2 linked regions of the Homo sapiens genome follow. The gene in region 1 interacts genetically with each later gene. Each region holds a gene or a part of one and is shown in the gene's direction. Other genes may lie near its edges.

The links. Genes that interact genetically often act in the same process or in processes that back each other up.
Region 2: changes in POMC (region 1) and CHD1 together harm fitness more than expected from each alone (negative genetic interaction), as found in Homo sapiens cells (one large-scale study listed by BioGRID).

What each region holds. Positions count from the first base shown.
Region 1 is NC_000002.12:25,162,655-25,165,883, reverse strand, and holds part of POMC (pro-opiomelanocortin preproprotein), read left to right. Parts: intron 1-198; exon of another isoform or gene 199-248; intron 249-1,061; exon of another isoform or gene 1,062-1,091; 5' UTR 1,092-1,111; coding exon 1,112-1,243; intron 1,244-3,229.
Region 2 is NC_000005.10:98,894,508-98,898,007, reverse strand, and holds part of CHD1 (chromodomain-helicase-DNA-binding protein 1), read left to right. Parts: intron 1-687; coding exon 688-815; intron 816-1,565; coding exon 1,566-1,782; intron 1,783-3,321; coding exon 3,322-3,411; intron 3,412-3,500. UniProt on the Homo sapiens protein: ATP-dependent chromatin-remodeling factor which functions as substrate recognition component of the transcription regulatory histone acetylation (HAT) complex SAGA. Regulates polymerase II transcription.

The sequences.
Region 1 (3,229 bases):
GAAATCCAAAATGATTGTAGGGTTGGCGGTGAGCTGATCTCCGGCCTCGAGGTGGCTTCAGGGGGCCCACCTGGTTAAGGGAAATTTGGCAGTGCGAGGGTAGTGCTGGAGAGAGGGGTGGGTACAGGGGGCTAGGGGCACCATGGATGCCCCCTCCTTACTGTCCCCTGGTGTCTTGACCTCAGCTTCTGCCCACAGGCACTTGCTGGATTCTCCAAAAGTATCTGCAGTGGCTGTTCCACCAGGAGGTAATTCCCTTCTGGTCTCTTTCCCCTCCACATCTGCATCCTCTTCAAATCCTGCCATTTCAGACCACATTTGAGAGCTCTAGAGAACAAGACATCTGACACGTGACGTGTCCAGAAGATGAGCCAGATTTCAAAGAACTGAGATCTGCTTTAAAAACGAAGCTCTCCAAAGTTACTGGAGTCTGGGTAATAGTGATCACCAGAGTAATTTGTGTGCAGGACATCAAATCAGGCTGCTCGAAATGCTGCCTAAATTGGCCAGTGGTTTTATTTGCTTTTCTGTCAACCTAATATTCATAGGAAATAGAGTTTCAGAGGAATGATAGGATCCTGGTGGAATAAAAAGGGAAAAGACCATCTTGAGCAGGAGTTTCAGGGTCCTCCGTTTTTCCCAAGTTACTTTCACTCCTGAGATCTTGCATGTTAGAACTACAGCTTAATGTAGTGAAATAGGAAAGTTCTCTGTTAGGAGCTTAGCCTTACCTTGTCATGGACATTAAAGTAATTGTCTCTCTTTGGGCTTCAATTTTCCCATCTCTCATGGGAAGGGCTGAACCAAGCAATCCCCAAAATAGCTTCCAGCCTTAACCTTTTTAGGGGTCTCGTTTAAATAGAAGATAACAGGGAAATGGTCACAGTTTACCCACCATTCCCTCCTCCTTATCACAACTTATACCACCGCTGTACTGCACACCTCCTTTCTCAGCATTGCTGCTGTCCTTAAAATGCCTTTAACTCCACAAGAGAGTGTGTTGTTAATGTTGGCTCAAGGTCCTTCCTGGTGAGTGGCCAACATTGTTTTGCTCCTTGCAGGGGTCCCACCAATCTTGTTTGCTTCTGCAGAGCCTCAGCCTGCCTGGAAGATGCCGAGATCGTGCTGCAGCCGCTCGGGGGCCCTGTTGCTGGCCTTGCTGCTTCAGGCCTCCATGGAAGTGCGTGGCTGGTGCCTGGAGAGCAGCCAGTGTCAGGACCTCACCACGGAAAGCAACCTGCTGGTACGTGGGCCATGACTGCCATCTTGGCTTAGACATTAGATGGGACTGGAGCTGGGAAAGCTCAAAAGAAAAGGGTGTGGGGAAAGGGAAATTCATTCCCAGTGATAGGCGTGATTCAATCCAGGGCAGGAGCAAAACTTTGCAGTGAAGTAAGAAATGGGAGAAGAAATCAGGGAAGGAAGCAGCTTCAGGGAGAGGGGTTGAGTCCACAATTTCTGCTTGGTTATCCTTACTTCTTGCCCCATCTTTTATGGAGACCTTGAACCCTTTAAGCTAGAGATGGTGCTATAAGAGCAATAATGGACCCCTCAATCTATTCTGTACTTTAAATCTTTAGCTTCCCAAACTATTCCTTTTTAAGAAGCTCATATCACTTGCCATTTTCATTCCATATTTCTTACCCTTTTATCTACTACCGGTTGCAAAACCAGCCAGGTAGTTCTTCAAATCATCTCTGGAAGAAGGAAAAACCAGGGGCCCTTTTTTTTTTTTCTTTAATTGGTGCCAAATGTCTCATGTTTATTCTGGAGGACTGGCCTTCTGCTGTGTTCCTCTACAGTCTTTCCAGAGCATGTGAAGGCCCTTTGCATCAGGCAGGAGCTCCCTCCAGGTCACCACAGGGTGTATGTATCTGCCTGTGGGGGGTGTGTGTGTGTGTGTGTTGGGGGGCATAAATGAGTAATGATGCCAAATCCAGAGATTAAAAGGCACACTGAGACCAGGCGAGATGGCTCATGGCTGTAATCCCAGCACTTTTAGATGCTAAGGTGGGAGGATTGCTTGAGCCCAGGGATTCAAGACAAGCCTGGGCAACATAGTGAGACCTCCACTTCTACAAAAAATAAAAAAGTTAGCCAGATGTGGTGGCATGTGCCTGTAGTCCTAGCTACTTGGGAGGTTCACTTGAGGCCAGGAGTCTGACGACACAGTAAGCTATGATCACACCATTGCACTCCAGTCTGGGTAACAGAATGAGACCTTGTCTCAAAACAAAACAAAATGAAACAAACAAACAAACAAACCCCCATACTGTTAGTGTCAGTGACCGGAATTTTAATCTTGTTGCCATCACCTGGCAGGTGCTGAGGGTGGAATGTACATAACTACATTCTGTGTATTTTGTCAATGCAGAAGCTGAGTTAAGGTGAAGATAGAATGAGGTCCTCAAAGACACAGACCAGTTTTCATGTGTAATATAAAATAGAAACAAAGAGCCCAGGGGATTCTGTGAGTTCCAGTTTGGAAAGACCCAAGAGTCTCTTGACTTGAGACACCCACAGCACAGCTCACCAGGGAGGGTGCACTGGACACAGTCAGGACCCATGGGTTCTAGACCCAGTTTTGAGGTGTGGGACCTTGACCAGGTCCTATCACCTCTCTGAGTCTCCTGTTTCACTATCTGTCCACGGGAGGGGAGTGTAAATTAGTTTTTTCCATTGTTAACGTTCCACAGAGTTGTAATTCTGAACACCTGGAGTAGGCAATGTCCAGCTCAACAGAGTGGGTAGGATCCTTTTATTTTCTCCTTTGCTATTCCCAAGAAAGAGAGCAGCCAGTGAGCTTTTCATCTTTTTATCACTGAAAACTCAAGGCTGCAGCCTATGCAGCCATTTTCCTAAGCTAATATGTACCACAATAGAGTCCTCTAGGGACAAGGAGCAGAGACACAGGTTCCACAGACGGTGCAATGGAAATAACGCTAGCTTTCCACCCCTCCCTCCAGTCAGAATGAGATTACAGGGAAATAAGCTTGCCCCAGAGCTCACTGGGGGATCTCTCAGAAATCAGCTCAGAAGTCGTGAAAGAACCAAGGTGCAGTTTTGGAGGCTTAGTGCAGAGATGGAGCTGGGGTAGGGCATAAAGTAGGTTTTTCATCACTGAGGTAAGGTTGAGGCATTATTTTTTATTTTTTGTTTATTTATTTATTTTTTTGAGACGGAGTCTCGCTCTATCACCCAGGCTGGAGTGCAGTGGCGCGATCTCCCC
Region 2 (3,500 bases), on another chromosome or scaffold:
AAGTGTTGTCTTTTATCTTGTTGAGCATCACTATGTCAGAAAGATGAGTTGGTTATGGTGATTGTCAGGAAGGGTTGGGAGAATAAACAGAAAAAAACCCTTGGAAACTAGAGATATGCTCAATTTTAAAGATAGTGGATATTTTCTTAGAAGGTAGAGAAAAAGGAGAGTGATATAGGAAAGTATCCAGAACTACCTTGCACAATACTTTCTGCATCCTTGTAACTTACCCAGAGTTACTAGTGATGTGTTGAGATCTATGGACTACTAGACTTTCTTTCCTTATTACAAGAATTACATTCTTCATAGGGATAACTTGGAATTCAGAAATTGAACGGTAAGCTAAGCCAGTTTTATGGTTTGTAGCTTAAGGCTGGAGTGATGGTTTTGAACAATTTAACGTAGGTTTTGCTTGTGAAATACATGAGACTCATATTTTGGCAGGAAGTTAATTTTCTCTATACATTTTTGTTTAAAAAAGAAGGCAAAATATTTCACTGTTCATTTTTGTAGAGTAGTAGAAAACAGTATTGACTGAATCCTCAGGTACATTTTGAGTAATGGAATCTCTGAGCTTGATGATTAGAGATGAAATTTAAGAATTTATGGTAAAGCTGAGGCTTTCATCTTTTAGTATAATTTCTTATATTTAATAACTCTACATAATAATGTTTATTTCTACTAAAGGTATTAAAACAAAGGCCAAGGTTTGTAGCCCTGAAGAAGCAGCCATCCTATATTGGAGGACATGAGGGCTTAGAATTAAGAGATTATCAACTGAATGGTTTAAATTGGCTTGCTCATTCTTGGTGCAAGTAAGTATATTTTGAATCATCTATTTAATTTGACAGAGTAAGAATTTACCAATACAGGATTCAGAAAAGATTTCCATTTACATAAAGAATAAGACTCTTTGGCAGTTTATATGCTAGTCTTTGTATTTCCTAGTTTGTATAAACAATACTTACTACATACTAGGAAGAAAATCCAGTGGAGTTGGAGTTTAACTTGATTGTTGCCTTTTTAAAATATGTTTTTATTCAGTTTAAAAATCAAAATGCATATCTGTTCTCATCCCATGCTATTCCTGGAATATTTCTCTTTTTCCTAGTTATTTTAATATCCATTTACTCTTCTACATTTTTTTTCTATCTTCTATGGCCCCCACTCTACTTTTGTGAATCTCGGTTGCAATTTAGCTATAGTTTTTTTTTTTAATCTGTGTTCTTCCTATATACTTTTTACTTATTTAATATATCTGGACTCTACTACTAGTAGATGAATTGCATTATTGGCTTCATAATTGATTAAACATAATACTATTAATCTTTAAGCCTCTTCTGGCCCAAAACGGTCATCTCCTTTTACTTTTCTTACAGCATTAGTGATTAAGTCTTTAGCCAGATACCTTTACATTTATTATTTGTAGTTAATAAAAGTGGTATATTCTATATAATACCTATCAATTTTATTTAACTTCATAAAAACATATACACATGATGTAAAAAGGTTTCTTTGTATATTTGAATATTTCCTTGCATGCTAATTTTTTTTTAACTTTGTAGAGGAAATAGTTGCATACTCGCTGATGAAATGGGCCTTGGAAAAACAATACAGACGATCTCATTTCTGAATTATTTGTTTCATGAACATCAATTATATGGACCTTTTTTATTGGTAGTACCGCTCTCCACTCTTACTTCCTGGCAAAGGGAAATTCAGACTTGGGCTTCTCAAATGAATGCTGTGGTTTATTTAGGTGACATTAACAGCAGAAACATGGTAAGTTGTTTCCCTGTAAATGTAGAAATCAAAATGTACTTGTCTTTGAGATCAAGTGTTTTTGTTGTTTTGAGATGGGGTTTCACTCTGTCTCCCAGGCTGGAGTGCAGTGGTATGATCTTGGCTCACTGCAACTGGGACCACAGGAGCACGCCACCACTCCTGGCTAATTTTTTATATTTTTTAGTGGAGACAGGGTTTTACTGTGTTGCCAGGCTGGTCTTGAACTGAGCTCAAGTGATCTGCCTCCCTTGGCCTCCCAAAGTGCTGAGATTACAGGCATGAACCACCGTTCTTGGCCTAACAAGGATGAGAGGTTTTGTTTTGTTTTGGTCTGTATAACAGTCTTTGTTTCTGGTATAGAACTTGCCACAAATAAGTTCTCAGTACATGTTTAATTGACTGTAACAAAGTCAGTTTTGGTTTAGTGTTACTTAGTATATATATTTGACTGTTTTTTTGGTGGGTTTTTTTTTTTTTGTTTTCACTCTGTCATCCAGACTGGAGTACAGTGGTGTGATCTCGGCTCATTGCAACCTCCACCTCCCAGGTTCAAGTGATTCTTCTGCCTCACCCTTCCAAGTAGCTGGCATTACAAGCGCCTGCCACCAGGCCCGGCTAATTTTCATATTTTTAGTAGAGATGGGGTTTCACTATGTTGCCCAGGCTGGTCTCAAACTCCTGACCTCAAGTGATCCACCTGCCTTGGCCTCCCAAAGTGCTGGGATTTACAGGCGTGAGCCACCATACCAGCCTATTTTACATTTTTAATGGAAAATTTCAAATATGCATGAGAACAGACAGAAGAATGTAATAAACACTCATGTTCTTAAGTTTCACAAATTTACTGCTAGTTTTGTTTTGTCTATACCTCTACACACGACTTTCCTAGTTACTGTGAAGCAAACCCCAGACATCATATTTCATCCATAAACATTACATTATTAAATGAATTAATCACTTATGTTTTCTTAAATAAGACCTTTTCGTTTGTGAAAGATGTGCTTTAAAATTGTGTTTACTTCGTTTTTTAAGAAATGCTGTGGTATTTATGTTTTATTTATAAGATTTACATAGCATTTTGGACTATATAAAGAATAACTCTGGCCGGGCATGCCGGCTCATGCCTGTAATCCCAGCGCTTTGGGAGGCCAAGGTAGGTGGATCATCTGAGGCTGGGAGTTCGAGACCAGTCTGACCAACATGGAGATACCCTGTCTCTACTAAAAATACAAAATTAGCTGGGCGTGGTGGTGCATTCCTGTAATCCTAGCTACTCGGGAGGCTGAGGCAGGAGGATCACTTGAACCCGGGAGGTGGAGGTTGTGGTGAGCCGAGATCACGCCATTGCACTCCACCCTGGACAACAAGAGCAAAACTCTGTCTCAAAAAAAAAAAACCACAAAAACTCTTTTATTACATAAACATATATTAATAGTTACTTACATATTTGAATGGATTTTAATTTTTAGATATGTAAGTAAAAGTATAATTTGCTTGATGTTTGTCTTAAAAATTGTCCTTCAAATTTCTTAATAGATAAGAACTCATGAATGGACGCATCATCAGACCAAACGGTTAAAATTTAATATATTGTTAACAACTTATGAAATTTTATTAAAAGATAAGGTATGTATTTATTTCTCACGTGTTTTGGTCTCTTGTATATCAGTTTTTTCTTTATCATATGCTGTGGACAAGATGAGAGAATAGCCTAA